Linked DNA regions of Homo sapiens: all the other regions are reported to be linked to region 6. Evidence: microRNA targets listed by miRTarBase, many of them from high-throughput screens and not tested one by one. Region 6 holds a microRNA gene; each other region holds the end of a gene's coding sequence.
Evidence for each region. Region 6 holds the annotated microRNA hsa-miR-15a-5p (UAGCAGCACAUAAUGGUUUGUG, at 2,609-2,630, shown strand). A microRNA usually pairs through its seed, bases 2 to 8, with sites in the 3' UTR of a target mRNA and lowers its output. Matches are read on the target gene's strand: a 7mer-m8 pairs with bases 2 to 8, a 7mer-A1 pairs with bases 2 to 7 and ends in A, and an 8mer does both.

Region 1: the mRNA of BHLHE40 is a reported target of hsa-miR-15a-5p. Seed matches in the 3' UTR shown: 7mer-m8 at 248-254.
Region 2: miRTarBase lists U2SURP as a target of hsa-miR-15a-5p. The part of its 3' UTR that is shown has no 7-base or 8-base seed match.
Region 3: the mRNA of SLC25A29 is a reported target of hsa-miR-15a-5p. The part of its 3' UTR that is shown has no 7-base or 8-base seed match.
Region 4: miRTarBase lists TSPYL2 as a target of hsa-miR-15a-5p. Seed matches in the 3' UTR shown: 8mer at 3,576-3,583.
Region 5: the mRNA of CCNYL1 is a reported target of hsa-miR-15a-5p. Seed matches in the 3' UTR shown: 7mer-A1 at 1,067-1,073.
Region 7: the mRNA of ENTPD6 is a reported target of hsa-miR-15a-5p. Seed matches in the 3' UTR shown: 7mer-m8 at 3,021-3,027 and 7mer-m8 at 2,635-2,641.

Annotation. Positions count from the first base shown.
Region 1 is chr3:4,983,462-4,987,525 of GRCh38, forward strand. BHLHE40 (basic helix-loop-helix family member e40) reads left to right here. Exons shown (of 5, transcript NM_003670.3): 5 at 1-1,862. The coding sequence ends at 231. Among named protein-coding and RNA genes, the nearest start is that of BHLHE40-AS1, 5.5 kb to the left of the region's middle. RefSeq lists enhancers at 1-408, 269-318, 499-678, 1,109-1,168, 1,179-1,238 and 2 more.
Region 2 is chr3:143,055,948-143,060,013 of GRCh38, reverse strand. It overlaps U2SURP (U2 snRNP associated SURP domain containing), which reads right to left. Exons shown (of 28, transcript NM_001080415.2): 28 at 1-3,702. The coding sequence ends at 3,564. Among named protein-coding and RNA genes, the nearest start is that of U2SURP, 56 kb to the right of the region's middle.
Region 3 is chr14:100,289,020-100,293,085 of GRCh38, reverse strand. SLC25A29 (solute carrier family 25 member 29) reads left to right here. Exons shown (of 4, transcript NM_001039355.3): 4 at 54-1,970. The coding sequence ends at 803. Among named protein-coding and RNA genes, the nearest start is that of MIR6764, 14 kb to the right of the region's middle.
Region 4 is chrX:53,087,690-53,091,755 of GRCh38, reverse strand. It overlaps TSPYL2 (TSPY like 2), which reads right to left. Exons shown (of 7, transcript NM_022117.4): 7 at 3,216-3,980. The coding sequence ends at 3,817. Among named protein-coding and RNA genes, the nearest start is that of KANTR, 4.4 kb to the left of the region's middle.
Region 5 is chr2:207,753,165-207,757,230 of GRCh38, forward strand. CCNYL1 (cyclin Y like 1) reads left to right here. Exons shown (of 10, transcript NM_001330218.2): 10 at 424-3,010. The coding sequence ends at 534. It overlaps MIR4775 (microRNA 4775), which reads left to right and starts at 1,643; the gene lies at 1,643-1,717.
Region 6 is chr13:50,047,731-50,051,796 of GRCh38, reverse strand. MIR15A (microRNA 15a) reads left to right here and starts at 2,596; the gene lies at 2,596-2,678. It overlaps DLEU2 (deleted in lymphocytic leukemia 2), which reads left to right. Exons shown (of 14, transcript NR_152566.1): 6 at 2,135-2,213. MIR16-1 (microRNA 16-1) reads left to right here and starts at 2,736; the gene lies at 2,736-2,824.
Region 7 is chr20:25,224,897-25,228,962 of GRCh38, reverse strand. It overlaps ENTPD6 (ectonucleoside triphosphate diphosphohydrolase 6), which reads right to left. Exons shown (of 15, transcript NM_001247.5): 14 at 3,646-3,758; 15 at 888-3,464. The coding sequence ends at 3,366. Among named protein-coding and RNA genes, the nearest start is that of PYGB, 21 kb to the left of the region's middle.

The sequences.
Region 1 (4,064 bases), not on the chromosome of region 6:
CCCATGCTGGAGAAGTGCTGGTATCCCACCTCAGTGCCAGTGCTATACCCAGGCCTCAACGCCTCTGCCGCAGCCCTCTCTAGCTTCATGAACCCAGACAAGATCTCGGCTCCCTTGCTCATGCCCCAGAGACTCCCTTCTCCCTTGCCAGCTCATCCGTCCGTCGACTCTTCTGTCTTGCTCCAAGCTCTGAAGCCAATCCCCCCTTTAAACTTAGAAACCAAAGACTAAACTCTCTAGGGGATCCTGCTGCTTTGCTTTCCTTCCTCGCTACTTCCTAAAAAGCAACAAAAAAGTTTTTGTGAATGCTGCAAGATTGTTGCATTGTGTATACTGAGATAATCTGAGGCATGGAGAGCAGATTCAGGGTGTGTGTGTGTGTGTGTGTGTGTGTATGTGCGTGTGCGTGCACATGTGTGCCTGCGTGTTGGTATAGGACTTTAAAGCTCCTTTTGGCATAGGGAAGTCACGAAGGATTGCTTGACATCAGGAGACTTGGGGGGGATTGTAGCAGACGTCTGGGCTTTTCCCCACCCAGAGAATAGCCCCCTTCGATACACATCAGCTGGATTTTCAAAAGCTTCAAAGTCTTGGTCTGTGAGTCACTCTTCAGTTTGGGAGCTGGGTCTGTGGCTTTGATCAGAAGGTACTTTCAAAAGAGGGCTTTCCAGGGCTCAGCTCCCAACCAGCTGTTAGGACCCCACCCTTTTGCCTTTATTGTCGACGTGACTCACCAGACGTCGGGGAGAGAGAGCAGTCAGACCGAGCTTTCTGCTAACATGGGGAGGTAGCAGGCACTGGCATAGCACGGTAGTGGTTTGGGGAGGTTTCCGCAGGTCTGCTCCCCACCCCTGCCTCGGAAGAATAAAGAGAATGTAGTTCCCTACTCAGGCTTTCGTAGTGATTAGCTTACTAAGGAACTGAAAATGGGCCCCTTGTACAAGCTGAGCTGCCCCGGAGGGAGGGAGGAGTTCCCTGGGCTTCTGGCACCTGTTTCTAGGCCTAACCATTAGTACTTACTGTGCAGGGAACCAAACCAAGGTCTGAGAAATGCGGACACCCCGAGCGAGCACCCCAAAGTGCACAAAGCTGAGTAAAAAGCTGCCCCCTTCAAACAGAACTAGACTCAGTTTTCAATTCCATCCTAAAACTCCTTTTAACCAAGCTTAGCTTCTCAAAGGCCTAACCAAGCCTTGGCACCGCCAGATCCTTTCTGTAGGCTAATTCCTCTTGCCCAACGGCATATGGAGTGTCCTTATTGCTAAAAAGGATTCCGTCTCCTTCAAAGAAGTTTTATTTTTGGTCCAGAGTACTTGTTTTCCCGATGTGTCCAGCCAGCTCCGCAGCAGCTTTTCAAAATGCACTATGCCTGATTGCTGATCGTGTTTTAACTTTTTCTTTTCCTGTTTTTATTTTGGTATTAAGTCGTTGCCTTTATTTGTAAAGCTGTTATAAATATATATTATATAAATATATTAAAAAGGAAAATGTTTCAGATGTTTATTTGTATAATTACTTGATTCACACAGTGAGAAAAAATGAATGTATTCCTGTTTTTGAAGAGAAGAATAATTTTTTTTTTCTCTAGGGAGAGGTACAGTGTTTATATTTTGGAGCCTTCCTGAAGGTGTAAAATTGTAAATATTTTTATCTATGAGTAAATGTTAAGTAGTTGTTTTAAAATACTTAATAAAATAATTCTTTTCCTGTGGAAGAGAAAGATGGTCTCCTGAGTTTTTTAAAATAGCTCACTTGGTGTGATATGGCTGACTCCCATGTCCTTCTTTCTTGGCTGAAGCAAACCAGTTAATCTCAGTGTAATTTCATTCAGCTTTTCATGTGCTTTGTATTCAATCAGAATAAGCTTAGTCAACCTGGCAGGTAAATATTGGTTCAATTTTTGTTTAACCCTTGCCAGGGGTTCATGATCATCCTCTACCTCTTTCCAGAGTTAAGTAAAAAGCATATTTTCCCCTGCCTGCTTTCATCGTGGTCCTTGGAACTTGACAGAAAACCAAGGTATGACACCGTGGGCAGCAGTGTCTGGGGAGCCTGCTGGAGGGAGAGGCACATTGAGAAAAGATTTACTGGATTATTATGCAATACTAATTGATGCTAGGATAGCACCTCTTTGCCAAAGCAGTCTAGCTTTTTCAAATCTAGCAAGGTCTAATGGATTTGCCATATCCTGTCTTATTCCTGCTGGAGGCAACATTCCATAATTATTTTCTACATCCTTCCTGGACTTCCTCTCCGGTATGTTTGTGCGTGAATGCATATTGGGTGTTCCTTCGACAAGTGCTCTTATTTAAAAAAAAAAAAAAAAAATTCCATGGGAAAGGTGGGAAATGACCCTGTCGTGTATTTTTGCCTCTCTCCTTTGCCTTGATTTGCAACATTCCTGTGGGATACTCCCTGTCAGAGGTGTCCTGATGTTTCCTGATGGCCAGCGCCTGACTCAACACGCTCCGGCTCCCAAAGCATCCCAGTCTGCCAGGACTCCCTGGTTGTCTGGAGTACAGCAGGGAAGCTGCCCCTAGGGATTTCTTAGCCAGGCAGAGGCTCCACCTGACCATGAAGACTGTTTGCTTCACATGTCACCTTCCCTGTCTCCTGATGGGCCAGCAGGTGAAAGTGAGCATTGTCTGCTTGTGCTGGATGCATATGGAATGCACGTAACTGTCCCCAGGCCACAGGCTGTTGTGCAAGGAGCCGGGACCAGGAGGTGGAAGCCTGGCATCAATAGCTGGTGGTCTATCACCTCCCTCTCCACGCCTGCTTTTGACTAGATAAAATAAGAATTCCGAGCCCTTCTCACAAGTCCCAGAGCAGGCAGATGGCAAATTCTGTAAGCCACTCTTTCTCCCAGCCCAACGCCTGGGCTTCCAGGTCTCATGCCTGTGAAACACCTCAATTGCTCCATGAGTTGCCAGACCTCTCTAGCTAGACTTTTTTGGAAAAAACCCAACAAATCAAACTTACCCTGGTGATATAGCCGGGGGTTGAAAAATCAAGACCAAACTCTTTTTGCATAACCCTCTCTTTTTCCCAGGCCACTGCAGGAGGAGTAGCTTTGGGGAAAGGAGGAAGTGGTTGGAGCAACCTGAACTAAAAAAAAAGATTTGAGGGTTCCACACACAGTCAACCCAGAATCCCGCTATGGGAACCTGCCCCTGTCAAACAGCGCCTCAAGTTGCAGCTGTCCCTCCACTTCATTTTTTGCTTCCAGCTCGCCCTTAACCTCTCTTCTAGCCCAGTTCTAGCGGCATCCAAATGCGCTCAGAGGGAGGTGCGGGGGAGGGGCGCGCACCCCAGCCTAATGCCCACTGCGGACAAAGAGGACTTCTGTTTAAAAAGCGGGGTGTGTGAGTGTCAGGGGGCGAAGCGCTGGCTCCGGGGCCAAGGAGAGGTGGCAGGAGGCAGGGGAGCGGAGGCTGGGCATCTGGCCGCCTTCAGACAGGGCGTGATCCGCCGGGCCTGCCGGGATGGTCTCACCCAGCGCTGACCTGCCCCGCCTGTTGACACAACGTCACGTTTCCGACTGCAGCCCTTTCATGTGCGGCCCGCGGCTAAAAGCGGCTGCCGGTTCCTGGAAGCAGACGTGCCTGGCACCGCGTCAGCAGAAACCTGATCCCCGGGGAAGCTCGGCAAGGCCTTGGGATCGCTCGGCCCCCAGAACTAGGGCCTGGCAGCGGGCACGGGACGCCCCCCCTCCCTCGCGCCCAGCAGGAGGGAATTCGAGCGCTCCCCGTCGGCGGTGGGGAGGGAGGACTGGGTGGGGTAGGGAGCTGGATTTAGGCAGAGCACGGGGACCAGGGCTTAATTGACTAGAAGCTAGAAGCTTCCCACGGGTCATCGCTCACTAATGCACGTCAAACAACCTAGAAGTATCATTATGGGTACTATTACAATTCACATTTTGTAGATAAATAAAAGCAGGCTCAGAGAGGAGAGGTAACTAGCCCGAGGTCACACAGCTTCTGAGGGGGCTAAACCTTTTGTAGGATGGTGGATCTGTTGGTTTGTGGGTCCCTTAATTGGATCCAAGGAGAAGGCTTTCACAG
Region 2 (4,066 bases), not on the chromosome of region 6:
AGTCTAGCATCACAACACTTCCCCTGGGATTTGTACTTATTTATATATTATCTAAGTCCTAGGAAGTTGGTAACAAAAATTTTAAGTCAAAAGGATAATGAATTAAACACTCCCTAAAATCTATTCTAAAACATGCGTGTGAAATATGAAGAGATCAAGCACTTTGTAAATGTGAGATTTTACAGTCACGTGTTCCTTTAAACTTATACTAGTATCTTCACTAGTATCTGCACAATTTTCTGTAATTAGGCTTTTCACTAAAACTTAATAGAAGAGGAAAACAACAAAGAAAAAAACCTTATTTGTAAACTGTACAGTCTTAGAAAAGTGGTACTATTTATTTTTAAAACCAACTTTCTCTGCTAAAGAAATCACACTGTGTGGTCATCAGAACAGTTTAAGTCACTTTGGCAATACAGAGATTTATTTACCCTTATTTTGAATAACAATAATGATGATGATAAACTATTGTCACGGTCATATAATTTTTCAGAACTTACGCCACCATGGAGGCAAATGTGTACAGAATATTTCTAATAAACCTAAATTTAATCACAGTTAAAATTTCTCAAAAGTATTTTCAAGTGCTCAAGAATATTAAAGTTTGGGGGGAAATACCTAAGTCATAAATAAGCAAGTATTCCCTCCAAGATTCACTAATTGGGATAAAAGTCTCAGGGTAAGCCCACAAGAATGGTCTGCAATAAAGAAAAATCAGGTCTGTGTAGAGTAATTTCTGCCATCTTTAGCAGAAAAGCCAAAAACATTCTGAGCCAAATAAAAGCAAAGATCTTTTGATTCAGCGCCTTTTGTTGTGTTAGTTTTAATTTCTAACTTCTCAACATGTTATAGCTCAGAAATTCCCATATGCTTACTATCTGTAATAAGGAACTATAACGTTAAAGAAAAAATTCAGAGACGTGATCATTTTCCATCATAGGTCTGTCTCTCTTTGGTAAGAAACAGATCAAGACTTACTTATTTTCTCTCACCTACAGAAGAGAGGGGAGTTAAATGTCATTAACCTAGTAAACAATCCCTGTGTATAAACATTAAGTTGGAGGGTAAAGAGCCTAAGTCATGCCCTTTATAAGAACTGTGGAAAACAACTCTGGCACGTAGCTGTGGTAGAGGACAGTAAGTGTCCACAGATAGAACATGATCTTTCCTGCAACTGGAAGACCATGCTTATGAACATTCTAGTCAACCTATAGAAATTTTGCTCTGTAACTTGAGTGTCCTTCAGACAAGAAACATGAATAATAAGCTATTATAAAAATATGGTAGAATATCTTCCCCCTTATAAGTCACCAATTTCTGATCCCATTAAACTTTCATAGAATCCATGGGAGTATTAAGTAGGTTTACTCTAGGTAATTTGTCATGAAGTAAAACTGGAAATAACCTATCTAATAATACCATTTGCAATTCAAGAAAAAAAAATCCAATACAATCTAATATGTACATTAACAAACTTCACAGAATATATATTCTATCAGGCCTAAGAAATCCTCACCCACCCAACCAAAAGAAAGTCAGTTTCACCCACTGTAAGATAAACCATGACACTTGTATCTGGATCCAGAAAAAAAGAACTGCTAAACTCCAATGTAGTAGGAAAAATATTACAAATAAGCACCCAAAACTGACCTAAAATTTTCTACTCAATCCCGCAGGATGTCTTTTTTTGAAGAGAAATAAGCATCCCTTGCAACTTGACTGGAAAGATTATTACCTGACCAATTATTTCTAAGCCTATACTAGAAACCAGTGCAAGATGGAATGCCAAAATCACCACCAACTCGACACGACCGTTATTTTTGCAAAGAAAGGTAGTTATATAAAATTCCATTCTCCCAGGCAATGAGCAGGGGAGAAAAACATGTTACTTTTTAAATGGCTACATTTGTAGGTTTTTGAGTATCAGCACCAAATGTTCACTTTTAATTATTCTGAACAAATTTTTAGGAATTAATGTTTCCTAACAAAATGGACTAACAAAACAGTGAATAAGGAAATAACTTTCAAGCAATATTTGCATGCTGATAAGAACCATTAAGTAAAACAGTGATTGGCTCATTTCCAAAGCTACTGTAGGTGTGCACCGTTTGGAAATAGTGTATCTCACTGCTCAGCTAATATAGGAACTCTCCAAACCATGGGTGCACATCTTATTTTGTGACTAGGCAAGATTAAGTAAAACAAGTTGAAAAGATTTTTTTAAAAAGCAAGCTAAATCAAAATAATCCATTGTTAGAATAGTTTTCTACTTTCTCTTTTAGGGAGGAAAAAAAAAACCCATCAAACCAGTGTATGAAGTGCCTACATAAAAAACTGAAATCAAGATTCACAAATAATAGTGTCAGTTCAATTCTACATAACCCTTTATTATATTTATAGCAGTATTATGACCAACATTACACAAGTTTTATTTCTTCCTCATACCGTAGCAAATTTATTTTCATAATAGAGTTCAACTCTGCAAATGGTTTAAATCAACTTTTTGCACCTTGAATTTACAAACCATTAGATACGAAGTTTCCTGAAAAACATTTTATTTTTAAATTTTACTTAAAGCTATAACTAAACCCAAGTCTCTTGGGAGTGGGGGGGGACCAACTAAGCTGTTTAAACACAAACTTATAAAAAATATTCTGATGCCAGTGTTTGAAAGATAGCCTACAGAAGATTATAAAAGGTCAACGATCATACAAGAGAATTCTATGGCCAAACCTTGTTAGAAAATTTGTTTTACAAATAAACTTCTTTCATAATAGAAGAGGAAATGAAAAGATATTTAATTTCCCCCTAAAAGTAAGTAGTTGCTCAGAACATGGGTTGGATGTATGGAAATCATATTGCTTCTGTGAAAAAAATGTTTTAGCCAGGCATTCCACTAACAAAACGCCATGCCATATCTACCTAGTCTTTGATATCTGGGTATTAGTATTACCCAAGAGAAACTTATCAAAAGCAAATGGTTAGCAAACCACCAAATAGGAGTCTCAGGTCCCTTAATTTGGATAGTCATCTTAGTAAATATAAAACTTAAGCTACTTGAACACTGGGGCTTATAAAGTGCATCAGGTATAAGAAGCACAACAGTAGTGTGAAACTCAGTAGGACTTTAAGGGACTTAATATCACCGGTGGGGCAAAAAAACAACATTATAGTTTTCTGTTCAGATTTTATTTGAAATCTAATTCAAATTGTCAAAGCTACAAAAGGGGGGAAGACATCTGTATTATTTTTGCTAAGTCACAACATCCTAAAACAAAATACTACTACTGTCAGCAGATCCATTATACACATTTCTGATGAAATCCATTAGAACAATAAAAATTTCATCTTGAGAAATAGCCACAATGAAAGTAATTTACACAATATAAAACAATGACAGATCTACAGATGCAGTTGCTCATGAGTTTACACATGCATACACAAACAAACAAAAAACCCCAGGAATGCTCTTTCATTTGATTTTTTGTTTTTTTAAAAAACAGACCGTTCAGGCACAAAACAAATCGCATTTCCAATAAGTGACAGCATCTTAAAAATTTACGTCAGTGTTTGTTTTTCTTTGACTTTTTATGAGACCTGTGTGGAGATCTGGACTGGGATCTGGACTTCTTTCCTGATTTTTTAGGAGATCTAGACCGTGATCGCCTAGACCTTTTAGGTGTCCTTGAACCAGATGGTGATCTAAGGAAACAAACAAAAAAATCCCAATTGATAAAGTACTCATGTGATCAAAACTGTTTATCCTTAAACGATCGAAAATGATCTTTAACAGGGCACAGTGAAAAATCACTGCAATAAGACTATGAACTTCTAAAATTTAAACTCTATTGTACACACACACACACAGATTATTTTGTACTTACTATGCACTGCATCAATGATCATCAGTAGAGCGCTTGTTTATAAAGACAGATTTCTGTGCCTTATCACTGCTCTACTGAATCAAAATCTCTGGAGGATGGAACTAAGAATTTGCATTTTTAACAAGCTCCATAAGTGACTGATAACCCCCAAATTTGAACCTTTAATCTACAAGATAAAGTTC
Region 3 (4,066 bases), not on the chromosome of region 6:
GAGGGCCCGGGAGGTGCGCGTTGCCGGCTCTGATGGCGTCTCTGTCCCCGCAGGTGCTGGGCCTGTACAAGGGCCTGGGCTCGCCGCTCATGGGGCTCACCTTCATCAACGCGCTGGTGTTCGGGGTGCAGGGCAACACCCTCCGGGCCCTGGGCCACGACTCGCCCCTCAACCAGTTCCTGGCAGGTGCGGCGGCGGGCGCCATCCAGTGCGTCATCTGCTGCCCCATGGAGCTGGCCAAGACGCGGCTGCAGCTGCAGGACGCGGGCCCAGCGCGCACCTACAAGGGCTCGCTGGACTGCCTCGCGCAGATCTACGGGCACGAGGGTCTGCGTGGCGTCAACCGGGGCATGGTGTCCACGTTGCTGCGTGAGACGCCCAGCTTCGGCGTCTACTTCCTCACCTATGACGCTCTCACGCGGGCGCTGGGCTGCGAGCCGGGCGACCGCCTGCTGGTGCCCAAGCTGCTGTTGGCGGGCGGTACGTCAGGCATCGTGTCCTGGCTCTCTACCTATCCTGTGGACGTGGTCAAGTCGCGGCTGCAGGCGGACGGACTGCGGGGCGCCCCGCGCTACCGCGGCATCCTGGACTGCGTGCACCAGAGCTACCGCGCCGAGGGCTGGCGCGTCTTCACACGGGGGCTGGCGTCCACGCTGCTGCGCGCCTTCCCCGTCAACGCTGCCACCTTCGCCACCGTCACGGTGGTGCTCACCTACGCGCGCGGCGAGGAGGCCGGGCCCGAGGGCGAGGCTGTGCCCGCCGCCCCTGCGGGGCCTGCCCTGGCGCAGCCCTCCAGCCTGTGACGCTCACCCCGCCCTCCTTCCCCAGGGCTCCTTCTCAGAAACCTGGGACATAAATTGGCCCCTGAGTCGATTGCCCTGCTTCCTGCTGGGATGCTGCGAGCTGTGGAGTCTATCAGACGTGGGCTGAATTTTGCTGATCAGCTGGGTAGTTTTGGCCGAGAACTGCACTTGCCTCAGTGTTCTCATCTATGAAATAAGGACCCTCATGCCCACACTGTAGAGTCACGAAGCTCAGAGATTATTCCCAGCAGCAGCCAGCACCTGGCCTGGCTGAGGCCATTGCACCGTTATCCTGGAAACTGAGGCAGACACTCCAGCCCCTTTCTGGGATCCTGGCCACGTCATTGTGCTCCTGCCCTGCAGGCTGGCTCCCGGGGGTCTCTGATGGCCAACCAAGGGGCCACCCAGGGACCTCTAACTCCACACATCCTCCACCCGGGGGGGTGGTGGGCCACCCCTCTGGTCTGTGTTAGGGACAGAGGAAAACTTGGTGTGCCTCCTGGTGTCACAGAACTGGATCCTCTGCATACCCCAGCTTCTCCACATGCCACTGCTAGGGGTACCCCAGCTGCTGCCACTCCTGCTGGAGGGTGAACTGGGGACCCTGCACCCTCCGGGAAGCCATGGAGTCTGCTGGAGGCACCATATCAGCCTGCGGGACTAGGGTGGGGAGCAAACAGGCCAGCGGTGGAGGTCTGGACAGTTCAAGTGTGATGCAGCTGTGGCAAGGAGAAATCCTTCCGCCTCTGGGCCTCAGGCTGCCTGTCCATAAAATGGGGACATGGCCAGCTGACGGACAACTGAGTCTCCGGCCCACCTACCACCGCCAGCCAGGATCCCCCAAAGTGTGCAGAGGGCTCAGCAGAGAACAGTATGGGACCCCCTCACCAGGCCTGGAACACCTCCAGCCACAAAGAAGCCAAAGGTCAGTCCCTCTGCTCCCCAGCAAACGGTGCCTCCCAGGCATTCTCAGTGCCAGGGCTTCATCCCTGTGAAGGCACAGGGCCTGCTAGTGGGCACAGGGGTGGCTAGTTGGGGCCTGGGGCAGAGGAGGGCTGCACCAGGCGTCCTGGGGAATGTGCTCAGTGAAGACGACACTGGGCTTTGCACAGCCTGGTGTCGCTGTACAGAAACTGTCAAGGGAATAAAGTGTTCTTTGTTTTTTAAGTGGCGAGGCTGCCTTTGCATATGGTGGAGGAAAGGGCTTCATTCAGCACCCTTGCCCTGGAGTCGAAGGGGCCAGCTCAGGGGTGCGTGTGCCCTTGGACCCTGACAGCAGCCTTGGCCATGTGACCTGGGCAGTTGCGGATACATCTGAGAGCCTGTTTTCTCATCTGCAAGGCAAGCTAATGAAGGGCGTGAACACGCTGGTGCAGCCTGGCCATTCAGCAGATGCCCCTCTGCTATCATCATCCCAGCAATGAGAGAGAGAGGCCTGTGGTGAGGGGCACTGGCGGGCGGGGCAGCAGGGGCAGGGTGTGTCCCAAAAACAGCTTCCTGGAAGAGGGGAGGTCTGAGTGGAGCTGACCATTTCAGCCACCCGGGCAACTTGGGCACAACTGTACTTAACCCAAACTAGGAGGTCAGAGAGGGCTTCCTGGAAGAGGGCATCCTGGAGCTTTGCCAAAGGTGTGGTGTGGGGGTCTCACTGCCCACCTCACCTGCAGTTCTGTTCAGCCTCCTGGAGTCAGCCCTTGGCATCCTGAGCCTCTGCAGCCACCAGCCCTGGAGGCTTTCCCTCCCAAGTGCTGAGCCAAGAAGCTCTGCCCACTGACAAGGGGGAGTCGGGGAGGGGCCCCAGTTCCTGTGCCTGTTTAACCCTAGTGCTAGCCTGGGAAGTTGGGCTTTACAGGGAGGCAGGAGGCGGGGAGGAAGCTGGCTGTTGACCCCTGGGGTCTCCTGGCCTCTCTCGCTTCTCTTTACTCTGAAATAAACCAGGGGAAGCTCCCAGGGATGGGGGAAACACCCTGGCCATGGGCACAGAGAGGGGCCCCTTCCCTAGCTCCTCCATGTCCAGCTTTGGCAGCCCCTTTGCCTCTCTAGGCCTGGGTGGCTGAATCTCTCAGGGCAGCTTGAGTGTGGCCTGTGGCTGTGGTCCCCATCACCCTGGATCTCTCCACACATCTGCACTCTCTAGAAAGGCCCCAACGTGACCCTTGTCAGGAACTAATTTGAGCCCTGCTCACCCTGGGGCTTCTCCACGAACCCTGCGGCTGCCTGCCCTCTGGGGACAGCACACAGACAGGCCAGCCCTTCAGAAGTGAGGAGTGGTGCGGCAAGGAGCAAGGTGAAGGGGCGGGGGGCTTCTAGCTCCCTCCCACTTCCCAGTTCAGCGGCCTCACATGACCAACACATCTGCCAGGCAGGGAGTAGAGTTGTTGTTTTTAATGAATTTATTTTACATTTTCTTTTCTCCCTGATTTGAACTTTTTTTTTTTTTTTTTTTTGAGTCTTGCTCTGTTGCCCAGGCTGGAGTGCAGTGGTGCTCTTTCAGCTCACTGCAACCTCTACCTCCCGGGTTCAAGTGATTCTTCTGCCTCAGCCTCCAAGTAACTGGGATTACAGGCGTGCACCACCACACCTGGCAAATGTTTCTATTTTTATTAGAGACAGGGTTTCACCATCTTGACCAGGCTGGTCTCAAACTCCTGACCTCAAGTGATCCACCCGCCTCAGCCTCCCAAAGTGCTGGGATTACAGGTGTGAGCCACTGCGCCCGGCCTCTGATTTCAATTGATTTGGAATAAGTGATATATGAAGTGCTAAAAACTAAAAATACTACCAGAATCCAGGCTTGTGCAGTGAAGAGGAAAACCTCCTTCCACCTCCCAGGGGCCAGCCTCTCCTCCTGAGTCGAGGACAGTCTCCAGTTCCCAGAGGGCATCCAACACATCTTGGGCAAGTGCCAGCATGGAGCAGCGGAGGGACATCTGCACCCCCTACAAAGTGTGGCCGAGGTCCTGACTGTTCTGTTCTTTGCTGTCTTCCCTTGACAGTGATCCTGGAGATTGCATCCTTCTCCTAGGGCTGCCGTAACAAAACACCACACACTGTGGCTAAACAATAGCCAAGTGTCCTCTGAGAGTTCTGAAGGCCACACTCCAGCTGCAGGCAGGGTTGGTTCCTTCTGGGGGCTCTGAGGGACGAACTGTTCCCTGCTTCTTCCAAGCTTCTGGGGGCAGCTGGCAATCCTTGGCTCCCTAGGCTCACAAGAGCATCGCTCCGATCGCTGCCACCATCTCTTGCCGCCTTCTCCTGTGTGT
Region 4 (4,066 bases), not on the chromosome of region 6:
AGATTGTGCCACTGCACTCCAGGCTGGGCAACAAAGAAAAAAAAAAAAAGACTTGCTCTATCTTGTTTCCCTGCTGTATCCCTATCACCCAGTTCAGTACTTCAGGCACACAGTAAGTACTCATAAGTGTTTACTGAATGAATAATAGGATTCCTTCCCAACCATCCTGCACACCCCCAACTGGGGGAGCCAGTGCCAGCCCTTTGGGTCACCTAAGGAGGGACATTCTTGAATCTAGTTTTGTCCCTGCCAATCCGATTCTACTCACAGAAGTAGGTGGCACTTTAAAGGTCTGGTCCCAGGAAATCCCAGGAACCTCCCACCCAGGAGCAGGGCCCTCTGCTGCAAAGGAGCGAGGGCAAGCTAGGAAGCATATGAAGACAAGTAGTTTCAACATGGGAACAGGCCCTAGGGCACATTGGGCCCATGACTCTTCATCCTCCTGGTTTCTGTTTAAGGTCTCAGCCAATGGGGCCTGTCTTCTCTGGCCTTCAGCGAAGACAGTATCTTGGAGCTAGATGTGACCTTAAAGACCTAGAACAGCCCTCTCTTTCGGAGGTCCAGACTGAAGAGTGAGGGCACAGGGAACAAGATGTTACTCTGGGCAAAGAACATCCTGTCCTCACATGGCTCAGCCGAGGACATGAGCACCCTGGCCAACTATACTAGAATACTATGATTGACTCTTAAGAGCATCACTGAAGATGAAGACCAGAGGCCCTCTCTAACAGGGTGGGTGAAGAAGAGTCTCAAATGCCAGGATGAGGGGCTGGGGATTTGATTGGGGGGACAGAGAGGAATCAGGGAAGAGCACAGTGAAGGCCAGACTTCAGAGACCTGCTTCAAGGCTAGACTCTGTCTTGAGACCTTAGGCAGGTTGCTTCTCCTGGACTGATCCCCCTGCACGATAAGCCTCAGTTTATAGATAGGAAAACTGAGGCCCTCTAGAGAGGACAAGGAGAGTCATGTTGTGAGGTAGGGCAGACTGAGGCAAGAGTAACCAGACTGGCTACTCTGGCTCTGATTGGCTGGGATCCTTTGGCAGGCTGACCTCTTTCTGGCCTACTCCGGCCTACTCCATTGCCTTTGCCCCTGCTGCTTTCCCCTCCCCTCCTCTTCACCGCATACTCATTGGGGTTGGCTCCAGATATTGCATGTAGATGTCTCTTTTCTCTGGGATCCTGCACTCTCAGCTCTGGCCTCGAGGTATTGTGTTACTTTGGGCAAGACATTCCCCTTTCTGGGCCTCAGTCCTCCCTGCCCACCTCTGACAGCACATCAAAGCCTCCATCCTGTCCCCCCCAAAACATTTATCAGAATCATTGGAGAGACATGTCAAGGATCTGGTATTCCAACCATCTCACAGAGGAGGCCCAGAGAGGGAAGGGGCCTTGCCAAAGGTCTCACACCAACCTGGCAGTCATCTTGACTCCTCTGAATCCCTCTCCTTCCATATCTAAAGCCTGTGGAGTCCAACATCTTAAAAGCTCTCATAGAATAGACAAATTGCTCTTGCAGAAGAATTCCAATTAATTTATGTACATACTTCCCTCTCAAGGAAATGGAGCATAACTCCTCATTCCCTAAGCACGGGCTGCGCTTACTTGGCTTCCTTCCAAAGAGTACAGCATGGAAAAAGAGAAAGAGGAGTAGCTTTACAGTGGAGAAACCTGACAGACACTACCTCAGCCAGGTGATCAAAGTTAACATCAACAGTGATAAATCACATTGATAGTACATGCCCTTGATATGATCTAGTGAGAATGACATTTGTCTTCTGTGGTCTTCCTTCCCCAAACTCATATCCTCAGTTTAATCATGAGAGAAAACATCAGACAAATCCTGATTAAGGGACATTCTATAAAATATCTGACCAGTACTCCTCAAATGACTCCAGGTCATCAAAAACAAGGAAAGCCTGAGAGAGTGTCATAGCCAAGAGGAGCTTAAGGACACAAGATGACTAAATGTAGTGTGCTATTCTGGATGGAATCCTGGAACAGAAAAAGGACATTAAGTTAAAACTAAGGAAACTGGAATAAAGTATGGACCTTAGTTAATAATAATGTACTGATATTGGTTCATTAATTGTGACGAATGTATCACAGAAATGTAAACTGTTAATAAGGAAAACTGGCTGTGGGACATACGGGACTTCTCTGTTATCTTCACAATAATTCTGTAAATTTAAAACTGTTCTGAAATTAAGTTTATTTTAAAAACCTCTCATATCCGCCCCCATCTTGCCAATCCCACCTGAGGTCTAGCGTCTATTTCCTTACTGCTGTCCTTCCTTCCAGTCAGTTCTCCTGGCAGCCAGCAGAGGGCATTCTCTAAAACGCAAATCTAACCATATCTGAAGCCTTCCAGCAAAATAAAGGCGTTGGATGGAAAGTTCGGGAGATATGTTATAAAAGACCGACTCGGATGTCTGAATAAAAGTTATTGTGATCCAGAACAAATCTGGGAAATATTCCTGGCGCCCACCGAGATAAAATTTATGTATCTAAATTTAATATAACTCAGCCTTTCCAAGGTCTCCCGGATAAAGCCTGTTTTTCAGATGTCCAACTCCCTACGTTTCCACCCCTTCGCACAGTTACATAGTTAATTCCCCTTTGTTTTTCCTTTATCTCTACGGATACTTCTCTGCTTGAGCTATCTTTTCTGCCTTCTCCCCCAAGCCCAGCTCTAGGGACTCTGCACCCCTTCCCAAAGGCAAGAGAGCGCTCCTGCATAATTGGGTTGTGATATCCGGACCGAAGTCGTGTTTTATTTTTACTAAATGCGAATGAGGAAAATGAATTCCTTTGGCTCCCCACGCCCCGCTCACTCTAGGCCCGAGGAAAGGTTTGACGCACTATAAATTAAAAGATGAATCACTGATAAATGGATGTTCTAGGACGCAGGATGTCTCTACACGCATGCGCCAGAGGGGAAGGCGTGGGAAGCCCTTCGCTACCTGGCTGGGTCCGCTGCGGGCGCCAGGAGAAGGAGGGGCTTCCTCAGCCTCGCACTGCCATTGGCCAGGATGATCCGCATTGGTCTGACGCAACGCCTCTGCGGCCTGGCGGAGCTCGCCCCCCACCCGCCAAACCCCCGCAACTAGCATGTTGCAGGATACTGCGTAGGCCAGGCGGCTACGTGTGGGCCTGGGGGAAACTGACCGCTGGGGCCGGGGCACCAGGCTAAACAAAAGACTCGAAGCGGCACTCTGAACTTGCTCAGAATTTTATTGGGATTAACAGGGTCCACGGGGAGAGGCGAGCCTTCTGGGGGACGGGGACAAGAATACCGCAAAGAATACCGCAATGGCGAAGCGGCCTTGCATAGACACCGAGGCGGGCTAGCGGCGCGGCGGGAAGAGGAGAGGGATGGAGAAAGAACTTGGGAGAGGAAGGTGGCAGCAGCGCCTCCATGGGCACTGCGCGGCTGTGACGAAGGCCACAGCGGCCCTCCCCGCTTCGGGGGTCAGGGTGTCCACTCCACACAGCACAGGGAGAGGGGCTGGGGCCACAACTGACTGGGAGAAGTGGGTAGAGGGGCCCTGACCAAGGCATCACAATAAATACAGTTAGCAGCACACAGAAGCCTGCGGGGGCGGAGGGCCAAAAGAAGGGGACTAGCCCCCTTTCCCTCCCCCCAAAATAAGAACTCTGCAATGACTAAACCATAAAAATAAACTTTAAACCCGTGTACGAAGTCGGTCACCCCCCAGAAGTGCAATGTGGGGCCGCGTGGCCCTAGCTGAGGAGGAGGGCAAATGGGATAGTGGGTGGGGGATACAGAGAGGTGATCCCCAAAAGGGGAAAACCCTTATCCGGTTTTCCCCCTCTTCCCCGGATTGGCCCAACCGTTTGGGACCTGAAGCACATCCTCTAGGTCAGAGTCGTCCGAATCTTCCCCTTCTTCCCAGACATCTTCACTTCCTTCCTCCTCATAGTTTCCTTCCTCATAGATGTCCTCATCTTGCTGGATGCCTGCATAGGGGAGAAGCAAGGAAGGGGAAATGGAGGAAGGCAGTTAGATGAGCAGATAGGTGTCACTCTAAAAGGGAACAGAGACC
Region 5 (4,066 bases), not on the chromosome of region 6:
ATGTGCTTTGAGTATATAATAGCTAATAAGGATTGGGTAGAATTTGAATAGCTGAATAAACATTTTTTTGCACAAGTGTACGTTTGTTATATTTAAGGAATAAGTTAACAGATAACAGATGCTATTGCTGTTAGGAGCCCTATCACAATACCTTTGATATCTTTGGGAATCCAGTTTTTTAATAATATAATAAATTCCCCTTTGTTCTCTGGGAATCTAACCATAGCCCTTAAAGGATATTACCTTGGTGAACTGTCAGGAAGTAGTGTCCCCACAACCTGGCAGTGTAAAACTCAGCCAAAGTAGCTGTAACTGTGAACTATCTAAAGGAGTCCACATGTGTGGCTTTCACAATGGTGCTCTTTCAAAGGCGGGAACCCTTTTTAAAATTGTACCTGTTTTCTATTTGATTGACTTTCCTAGGCTATTTCTAGATTGTGTGAAGACAAAGACTTGTGTAGAGCCGCTATGAGAAGGTCTTTCAGTGCTGATAACTTCATTGGTATTCAGCGCTCTAAAGCCATCCTCTCTTAAAAGGAGAAATGAGGGGTTATAACGTCATGGGACCTTCATCTACAAAGACTGGAGAAATACCACCTTTCCTGCTCAAAAACCAGCAAAATTAGTGTTTTCATCAAAAGGAAAGATCTCAAATTCAAGAGACTCATGGACAACAAGGATTATACTCCACAGGAAAGAATGGGACCTTGTCAATGCAACAAAACACTCTTCTGTCCTTTTTAATGTAAACAGAGTTACAAAAACCACTCCAAAGTGAAGGCTCCCATCCTACACACAGATATTTGCTTACTGTGTGGGCCGATAGCTGTGAACTATGTAAGGTTTTTTAAACAATAGTTTAAATTTTTAGACTTTAAAGACACTAACCATATAACTTTTATGTTTCTTCCAGTTTCTCTCCCTCCCCCCGCATTTTGCTGCATATGCCTTTAAAATCAATGCAGTATTACCATTAAAACATGGGACTCTAACTAAAGCCACTTAGGAGCAGACAGCAGCGTTGTTAGGTACTGAAGGGTTCTTCCTCCCTACTGTTACCATTGAAGCTGCTAGTCATTGGCAATCATTTTAAACCAAAAAGCTGCTGGATAACATTTGTCATTCATATTCTTTGCAAGCATTACTTTAGCATTTTAGCATGTTTGGGGTCATAAACAGAGGAAGTATCAGTTATTGATATCTACTTCTATTGGAGTCCATGTTGCATTTCTTGTGAACTATAAATGGTGCTTCTCATTTTCTGATAATTTTTCTCTTGCTAAATAAATGTATTAAAAGATATTTTCATAATGCCAACCAACATGGTGGTTCAGTGACGATGAGAAAAAGTGAAGCAGTTTTAAGCTTGAATATAGTTTGGGCCCTCCAAGGCACTGCAGCATGAGTATAAATGCTATAAACCTTTAAAAAACATGATTTGAAAGTTTTTTGTTTTGTTTTGTTTGTTTTTAAAGAGATGGGGGTCTTACTGCGTTGTCCAGGCTGGAGTGCAGTGGCTTTTCACAGGTGCAATCATTGTGCACTCACTGCAGCCTAGAACTTCCTGGTCTCAAGCCATCCTCTAGCCTCAGCCACACAAGTAGCTGGGACTACAAGTGCAACTGGCACCTGTCTCCTGAATATTAAGCTTTTAATTTTTTGTTTCGGTCACTCTTGATAGCAGACATTGACTGAAACAAAAAATTAAAAGCTTTATATTCAAAATTTGCAAAATGAAGCTGGGTGTGGTGGTGCACGCCTATAGTCCCAGCTACTTGGGAGGCTGAGGCTGGAGGATTGCTTGAGGTCAAGTATTGGAGGCTGCAGTGTACCATGATGGTGCCTATAGGAATAGCTACTACACTCCAACCTGGACAACGTTATCAAGACCCCATCTCTTAGAAAAATGCAAAATTAAATGCAAAAGAAATGGGCTGGGCATAGTGATTCATGCCTGTAATCTCAGTACCCTGGGAGGCTGAGGTGGAAGGATTGCTTGAGTGCAGGAGTTCAAGACCAGTCTAGGCAACATAGTGAGACCCTGCCTGTAAAAAAAAATAATAAAAATAGTTGGATATGGTGGCATGTGTCTGTAGTCCCAGCCACTCTGGAGGCTAAGGTGGGAGGATCAGTAGAGCCCAGGAGGTCAAGGCTGCAGTGGGCCATGATCATGTCACTGCTCTCCAACCTGGGCGACATCCAGACCCTGTCTCAAAGAAAAAAGCAGAAGAAAAATGTTCAGACAAGGTTTTGTAAAGGTTTGTAGCATTTATATTTCTACAAGTATCAAAGCTTAAAATTACACTGAACTTTTGGAATACCTTGTATCTCCATAAAATGCCCTCTTTTTAAAAGTAGTTACCCGCAGAGCTGTGCTCTATATGCTTTGATTACCGCAGTTTCTTTAAAGGAAGATTTTGAAGAGCAGTGTTAATTAACATGTAATAAAAGGAATTGGACCCTAATTATAGAAGGTGATATGAACAGCTGTTTTATCATCCTACATGCTACCAAGCTGTAGGTGTCCCATTAAGTCCTGCTATTTAAGAAATACTTACATAACCCTTAGGAACTCTTCAGGCTTTAAAAGGCAAGGAGCAAATAATTTTAGGAGACCGATAATGTCACCTAAATTTGAAATACTAAGAAGAGGTTAGTGTTCTCAACTATGTGAAATCTGTTTCTCCTACTTTCTCAAATCTAATCCTAGGAATCTTGCTTATAAACAAAGCATTTCTGGGACAGGAGTACTTCCTCTATTATAGCAATGCTTCACATCATATTGTGCTGCAGTTTCCATCATTTTTAAAGGACAGAGACATAAATGATAAATAATGGTATACAAATATTACAATCTACCACCTCAAAAAAACAAATATTGTTTATGGAATTCAGAGTTTGGAGATTCAAGTATTGATTGCAGTTTTATTTTGAAAAGAATGCTACAATTTATGTGGTTTTTATTTCTCATGTTTATATTAAAAGCTAATAAACTCTATTTTAATTAAAATATGGCTAGTGTGTTTGTAACACTTCTATCCACATAGTGTTACATCTCTGCCCAGCCTAGTTTTAAGTCAATCCTGATATGTCTTAAAGCATTTTCAAACCAACCATAAGTTGATTTGATCCATGCCTCTAGTTAAGATGTAGTGATCCATTTCTTTTGCATATGCTCTTTTCAACCTGAAGATAATTTATTACACTTAAAATCACTGACCACAATACTTAATGGCATAGTGCATTAGATGGCATCTTGAATAGTTGGTTATCGTGTCTGAGAGGGAAAAGCACATTAGAATATAAAATTAAGCAAAATGTATCAAAGAGAAAGGAATTAAAGGAATAGCGTAGAATTAGAACAAGAGGTATTTGAGGTTTTCAGACAAACAGGAAAGAGAATGGAAAGACAGGAACTAGAATTTGTGTTGCTGTTGAGAGGATGTCTTAAGCCACATAATTTGACTTTAATGTGCTATTTTCAAGCTTACATTTCAGTTAAAAATATACCAAGTCACTATTAGGTTTCTTTAGAACTAAGAGTCTAGCCACTCAGCTTTAGCAATTCTCAATAAATCCTGATAGCATTGCAATATTTTCATCCACTTTAATTCTTCATTACCTAAAGTCAAATATTTAAGTAAATGATCACAGTCAGGCACGGTGGCTCACGCCCGTAATCCCAGCACTTTGGGAGCCCAAGGTGGGTCGATCACTTGAGGCCAAGAGTTTGAGACCATCCTGGCCAACATGGTGAAACCTCGTCTTTATTGAAATTACAAAAAAAGACGGTGCAGTGGCTCACGCCTGTAATCACAACACATGAGGTCGGGAGTCTGGCCAACATGGTAAACCTCGTCTCTATTTAAAAAAAAAAAAAAAAAAAAAGCCAGGTGTGATGATGCACGCCTGTAATCCCAGCTACTCGGGAGGCTGAGGCAGGCGAATCCCTTAACTCTGGAGGCGGAAGTTGCAGTGAGCCAAGATGACGTCACTGCACTCCAGCCTGGGCGACACTGCAACTCCGGCTCAAAAGAAATAAAATTAGAAAAACGTTAGTGGGACG
Region 6 (4,066 bases):
GAGATTGAGACCATCCTGGCTAACATGGTGAAACCCCGTCTCTACTAAAAATACAAAAAATTCGCCAGGCGTGGTGGCAGGCGCCTGTAGTCTCAGCTTCTCGGGAGGCTAAGACAGGAGAATGGCATGAACCCAGGAGGCGGAGCTTGCAGTGAGCCTAGATGGCACCACTGCACTCCAGCCTGGGCGACAGAGCAAGACTCCATCTCAAAAAAAAAAAAAAAAAAAACCTGTCCTTTCTCCCCAGCGATTTTCTTAATGGTGTCTGGGAACTCATCTGCTGCCTCAAAGCCGCTTCTCCTGTTATCTTGACATTTTTAAAACCAAACGTCTTTCTGAAACTCAAACCATCCTTTGCTGGCACTAAATTCTTCAGCTTAAGATCCTTCACTTTAAGTTGTCTTAAAATGACTTTACTCTTTCTGAAAAGAGACTGTCTATCTGGTATACTACCAACTAGTGTAATAACTGGGACAGTGCCTGGCACATAGTAGATATTCAATAAAATATTTGTTAAATAATTTACAGGCACCTTTTATATTTGAAAAAAATTATGTTTAAGTTTTTATCTGGAAAATGTATGTGATGAGGGGGACCCTGAAGGACAATTCCTTAATATAATTGATAAATACAAATATATGTTATATATTTCTCAAGTGAATGCAAACGGATTTATCTTGGTTACATGTTAAAAATTGTGCAGGTCAGGATGGGCGCAGTGGCTCACCCCTGTAATCTCAGCACTTTGGGAGGCCAAGGCAGGTGGATCACCTGAGGTCAGGAGTTCAAGACCAGCCTGACTAACATGGTGAAACCCTGTCCGTCTCAAAAAATAAAAAAAAAGTGCAGGTCAGGCATGGTGGCTCTTGCCTGTAATTTTAGGACTTTGGGAGGCCAAGGCAGGAGGATTGCTTGAGGCCAGGAGTTCAAGACATCCTAGGCAACATAGCAAGACCTTGTCTCTACAATAAAATAAAAATGTAAAGAGCTGTGCATGGTGGTGTGTGCACTTGTAGTCCCAGCTACTTGGGAGGCTAAGGTGGACTGATCACTTAAGCCCAGGAGGTCAAGGCTGCAGTGAGCTACGATCATGGCACTGTACCCCATCCTGGGCAACAGAGTACCCTGAGATGAGAAGTAAAACAAATCCTGTAGCTCTTGATCTTCCTATTCCCTACCTATTTCCGGTCCATTTACCAGGTAAGGAAGTATACTCCTAAAGTTTCCACTTACTCAGATGTAGAAATGAATTTCTTTTTCTCTAAAAGATACGGAAACTACTCTCTTAAAAAAAGAAAAAATAAAAATTTAAAAAACGTTGTGCAGAAACTTGAGACAATAAGGAGCAGAGTTATATGTGAAATCCAGGTTGCTTAGATAGGAGATTAGCTACATATATTTTTTATTAATGGGAAAAATACTCAGAAAAATTTCATATGGAATGTGACCCTGTGCTTTGTATAAGTAATTAGATATTAGAATGGAAGAGCAAATTTTAGTGCTTTGGTTGTGTACATCACCTTACTATTCTGTAATAGATGTAACTTTAGCATAGTCATTTTAATGATGAGAACATGGGGCAAAAAAGATTGTCCAGGCTTGAATGGTGGCACCACTAGAGTGGTGGCAATTTTCTGATATCTTTTAGAGAAAAGGAATTTCATTTCTACATCTGAGAAAGTGGAAACTAGGAGTTTCTTCCTTACCTGGTAAATGGGCCAGAAACAGGGAATAGGAAGATTAAGAGCTATGGGATTTGTTTTATTTCTCATCTCAGGGTACCAAATTAACTCATCATCCCAAGGATTCATATTTTAGAATTACTTAAGGATTCATATTTTAGAATTACTGTATCAAATGATATCCAACTCTAAGAGAACTTCTAGTATGAAGATCAATGTTGAAAGTAAAATATTTAGATTATTAATAACAAATTATTTAAGGGAGAATTAGTTTGTTTAGAGCTTTTTTTCTTAACTATATTTGGAATTAAAATGTCTTAATTAGATATTTAATAAAATTAACATTTAGAATTAAAGTATTTTTCTTTAAAAGTATATTTGCATTTTGCTAGCTTAAGTTTATTGAAACTGAGCTCTTGTATGTCATTTCATGTTTTTCCCTTGATGTGAAGTCTTACCTATTTGATGAAGATGTCTTTTGAAAGGTGTACTGCAAGGAACAAAATGTTTGTAAATTCTCCTTTTACCAAGGTAAAGATCAAATTTTATAAATTTACTTGTTTGTTTATACAAGGAAAAATAACTTCATATATTGAATATATTCAAAAGTTTAAGCATTTAGTTGTATTGCCCTGTTAAGTTGGCATAGCAAATAAATGCTTTTCTTTTCCTCATTTTATTCTTTGTGTTTCCTAACCTATAGCACTGTGCTGGGCACAGAATGGACTTCAGTTAAGTTTTTGATGTAGAAATGTTTTATTATTCTACTTAAAATCTCCTTAAAAATAATTATGCATATTACATCAATGTTATAATGTTTAAACATAGATTTTTTTACATGCATTCTTTTTTTCCTGAAAGAAAATATTTTTTATATTCTTTAGGCGCGAATGTGTGTTTAAAAAAAATAAAACCTTGGAGTAAAGTAGCAGCACATAATGGTTTGTGGATTTTGAAAAGGTGCAGGCCATATTGTGCTGCCTCAAAAATACAAGGATCTGATCTTCTGAAGAAAATATATTTCTTTTTATTCATAGCTCTTATGATAGCAATGTCAGCAGTGCCTTAGCAGCACGTAAATATTGGCGTTAAGATTCTAAAATTATCTCCAGTATTAACTGTGCTGCTGAAGTAAGGTTGACCATACTCTACAGTTGTGTTTTAATGTATATTAATGTTACTAATGTGTTTTCAGTTTTATTGATAGTCTTTTCAGTATTATTGATAATCTTGTTATTTTTAGTATGATTCTGTAAAAATGAATTAATACTAATTTTTCAGATGTATCATCTCTTAAAATACTGTAATTGCAATTTAATAATTGTATTGAATGCCATCAAGTTTTTTTAAAAAGCTTATGCAGCATTAGAGGAATTTATTTTAATGCACATTTATATTCAACATAGACATTAATTCAGATTTTTACTTGGGATAAAACAAATTCTAGTTTTCCCTTTGTTTTGAAATTACTTTTAAAATATGTCTTTACAGATAAATATAAAATATATTAAGCATTTTGAACAGAGCTTAGAAGACAATATTTAGTACTGTTTCTGAATATTTCTTTATATCTGAAGGGGAAAAGCCATCAAAATATGTGAATTAAATACCTAAAATTCTGGTTGTCAAAACGTCACACTTAACCATAACTTTAAAGGTAGAAAAACCCTTACAAGTGACCAACCCACTCATTGGATAGCTAAGGAAACACAAAACTCAAATAATTTGCTACACATCACAGATTGGGGTCTTAGTCTTATGTCTTCTAACTTTATAATGGTATACTATTTTTTTCATGTTTTTATTAAAATGTTTTCTTAAATCCTTAGCCAAAGATTTTTGTTTGATAAGTCAAAAATAAGGTCTTGTTTACTTTGTTTACTTTTTTGTATTCAAGATTTAACTCAGAGTAAGACCAAATTATCATTGTAGTTTTATTGATATAAAATGTCAACATAATTTAATTTTTTTTTTTACTTTTTTGTATTTTTAAAATTTTTTATTAAAAATAAAAGTAGACAGCCAGGTGCGGTGGCTCACGCACTTTGGGAAGCCGAGGCAGGCGGATCACCAGGTCAGGAGATCAAGACCATCCTGGCTAACACGGTGAAACCCCATCTCTATTAAAAATACAAAAAAAATAGCCAGGCGTGGTGGCGGGCGCCTGTAGTCCCAGCTACTCGGGAGGCTGAGGCAGGAGAATGGCATGAACCTGGGAGGCGGAGCTTCCAGTGAGCTGAGATCGCACCACTGCACTCCAGCCTGGGTGACAGAGGGAGACTCTGTCTCAACAAAAAAAAAAAAAGAAAAGAAAAGTAGAGCTGGGCACAGTGGCTCAAGCCTGTAATCCCAGCACTTTGGGAGGCCGAGGAGGGTGGATGACG
Region 7 (4,066 bases), not on the chromosome of region 6:
TATCACATTTACCTTTTTTTTTTTTAATGAGATGGAGTCTCACTGTTGCCCAGGCTGGAGTGCAGTGGCGCGATCTCGGCTCACTGCAACCTCTGCCTCCTGGGTTCAAGCAACTCTCGTACCTCAGCCTCCCTAGTAGCTGGGATTATAGAAGCCTACCACTATGCCCGGCTTTTTTTTTCTTTCTTTTTTTGGTATGTTTATTAGAGACGGGGTTTCGCCATGTTGGCCAGGGTGGTCTCGTACTCCTGACCTCAAGTGATCCACTTGCCTCGGTCTCCAAAGTGTTGGGATTACAGGCGTGAGCCACCATGCCTGGCCACATTTGCCTTCTGATGACTCTGAAATGGTTCTAAAAATAAAATTCACCCTGCAACAATGATTTGTTGTGCCTGAACGTATTTAAAAATGTTAAGGTAGGGCATGGTGGCTCATACCTGTAATCCTAGCACTTTGGGAGGCCCAGATGGGCAGATCACCTGGTCAGGAGTTCAAAACCAGCCTGGCCAAGATGGCAAAACCCCATCTCTACTAAAGATACAAAAATCAGCCGGGCACAGTAGCGGGTGCCTGTAATCCCAGCTACTCAGGAGGATGATGCAGGACAACTGCTTGAACCTGGGAGGTGGAGGCTGCAGTGAGCCCAGATTGCACCACTGCACTCCAGCCTGGGTGACAAAGGGAGATTCTATCTCAAAAATAAATAAATAAAGTAATTAATTAATTAAAAAACAAGGCCAGGCACGTTTAGTTTCTTAACAAAAGTTAAGAAACTAAAATATAAAAATACCTTTTGGTTAACTTTTAAAACTATCTCTGTGGAGAAGCCTTCCTAATTATGACATGAAACCTAGAAGTCACAAAAAGATAAATTTTTGGACACGTTCTATCATAATGGGATAATTTCCTTAATAAATAAAGATCTACAATTAACAAAAAAATGATGACAATCTTATAGAAAATCGGCAAGGGATATGAACAGATGTTTCACGGAAATACAACTTAGATATACCCGATGAATTAGATCCATGCATATTAAAACTACCAGTTATCATTTTTTTAAATCTGCCAGAATGGCAAAGATTAAACTGGCTGTAGCTGTTAGGACATGGGGGAGGCCAGCACCGATGCTTGTCCAGTAGGATTGAAGGCAACGTGGCAACGTCTGCTTATGCCCTGAAACTCACTGCCCTGGGATCCTGCCATCCAAACACGGGGACTGCAGGACTGAGGCAGCTCAGTGGGCAGCAATGGGTGCTAAGTGATGTGGGGTACGCGGGCTGGGGTGGCATGTGGGGCGTGTGAGACCTGTCTGAGCTTGTCAATGCACACATCCTGAGGGAACAGAATTTTCAAGCAACCCTAGTTTGCTTCTTTTACGATGTGCACGTGTAGCTATTTTTGACAAATGAGAGCCTACTTCATTATCACAAAAGACACTCAGAGAGAAATGACTTGCATACTTTGCCGGGCCCAGAAATATTCCATGACTTATTTGGTGCACTTTTGGAAAACTTCCAGTTGTTTGCCTTTTTCAGGCATGAGGTCACCGACCTTCTTTAAATGGACCAAATTGATTTTGGCTTTACCTTCATGCGTCTGATTCTCAGCCTCCGGAGTTCTTTAAATATTTAAGCTGGTGGATATTATGGAAGTAAAGGCGCTGGTGGGGACCCAGCCCAGGCGGGAGGGAGGAAACTGTTCCTCTTTTTGTCTTTTGTCCTTTCCTGCTCTGTGCAGGCCTCCACCACGTGGCTCCATCAGCATTCGCTGCAGCCCTGGGAGGCCCTAGGGCCAGATCCTGTCCTCCTGTGACAGTTGGTTGGGGGGGGCTTCAGGCACAAGCACTCGGGATGTGGGCTGGTCTGCAGTTTCCCTGGCATGCGACACCTTTGGGACGCTTCCAGACCAAAACCAGATCCTTGCTGAACAGAATGACATGGGGACTTGCAGCTCACTCGAGGTTATGTGCCCAGGCCTCACCTGGCCGTGCTGTGGGCTGCTGGCCTGGCACAGGAGGAGCTGTGCTCAACAGACGCTGGGAGGGCCGGGGCCACCAGCCAGACCCTTCACCAGCCCCAGCCCCCAGGGGCCCTCCACTGCTGTGTCCTCGAGAGGGATGTCGACAGGACTGGAAATACGCCACCCCCTTTGGCAGCTTTTCTAAGGTTTAGTAAACAGGGATCTCAGGTGCCAGGTGGGCAAATGCTACTGTCGCTCAACGAGAGGAATCCCAGAGAAGGAGAAGCCCCTGTCAACCTTTTATTGGGAGTGGAACACATGAGGTTCAGCTCGTGCCGGGCACTGTACATTCACTGAAGCAGCTCAAGGGGCTCAGCCCCGACACTGACGCCACACTGAGCAGGATGCACGGCCCGGGGCTCACACTGTCCATGGAGGAGGTGGGGTCAGCCCGAGGTGGGCGGATGGTGGCCCGAGACACCGAGAGCTTGGTTCTGGGACTGTGGCTCAGCTGACCCGTGGCACAGCTGCACCTAAGACATGGCCCTGGCTAGGCGGGAACAGCTCACAGTAGCGATACATTCACAGGACACAGTTGGTGTCCAGAAAAGGGGGCTCAGAACACAGTTTCTACACAAGCACTTGGCACCCACACGACAGAGACGTCACTCAAGCAGCACAGCCACAAATAGTTTACAGCAGCTCATGCCCGGCATCCGCCCATGCTGGGAGACTCCCTGAAAGGTGGGCACCTGCCGTCTATGAGGAGGTGTCTCCCTCCATCATTAACCCCAAACCACACAATGTGTGAGGAGAGCAGGCCTCTGGGTGAACTCACACATTCATACCCAAGGAAGAGGCAAACACACTCAAGTCCAGAGTTCCCAGTGGTGCCGCCCAGACCTACTGTCCCGGGGGTGTTATGGCTGTCCCTCGGCTTCCCCAGAGCAGCCAGGACAGCCTGCACCGCCTCCCAGACTCTTGCAGGAAGGGGAGCTCTGCCCTGGGGAGGAAACTGACAGGCTGGGAGACAAGACTCCCATCGCAGGGACATGCACAGCAGCAGCCACAGCCCCGCGGACGGGGCATGGGGATGGGACAGGCAGGGAGCCACACTGCCCCCTCAGTGTGTGCCTGTGGTTCTGTCCTGGTCCTGCCCACTTGGAGCCCAGGCAGACAGGTGGCATTGAGCAGGGCCCAGGTCCAGACAGCCCTCTGGCCAGATGTGACTGGAAGAGGCTGATGCCAGGGCAGCACCAGGCCTTCTGCAAGTCCCAGAGCCAGTGTGCAGAAAGTGCCAGCACGGCCTGTGCTGTGGCTCCTCAGGATGAAGTCACGTCCAGGACAGGAGGGTTTATGCAGACACACAGACACTGCTGACGGGGACAGGGATGGCTCGGCCACTATGAGGCTGGACTCTTCTGTCTGTTCAGGGAGTCGATGTAATGAAAAATGGCCCCCAGAGCCCAGCTGGTCTCAACATTGTCAATTTTCCGAGTGAGCTTGAAAAGACAGAGAGGGAGAGGGGACCATCACACAGACAGGAAAGCCTTGTGCATCAGGAGGCTGTGGCTCCTTGGAAGCCAGGGATGGGCTGGGGGACATGACCCCAGCAACTGGAGAAGTGGTTCTAGGCCCCTCACTCCATAAAGGGGCTGGGGCGTGACCTGAGGGCACCCTTACCTTCAGCACTTTGCTCCTGGGAAAGCCGAACTCCTGGAGTAGCAGGCTGACGTAGGTGAGGTCCATGCATGAGAAGGGGCTGCTCTGCGGCTGTGTCTCCAGGGTCCGACACACTGGGGATGAGACACGTCCCTTCACGCTCCAGGTGACTCCCACCTGGGGGCGGAGGGGCAAGTGCAGACCCCAATTCCACCCACTACAGGCACCCGCTGGCTCCGCACTCCGGATTCACAGACAAGGCCGCAGCTGAGCGCAGAAGGCACCCAGTGCACAGCACAGGCAGGTGGGCGGCAACCCCGGCTGCCACTGGGTCTGGGCTCCAAGGGGATTTGCACGCCTGGTGTTAGGGTCATGGGCCAATGTCTCCCAAGCCACATTTCTACATCTAAGACCCTGGACACCTCTCCCAGGTGTCAAGCTG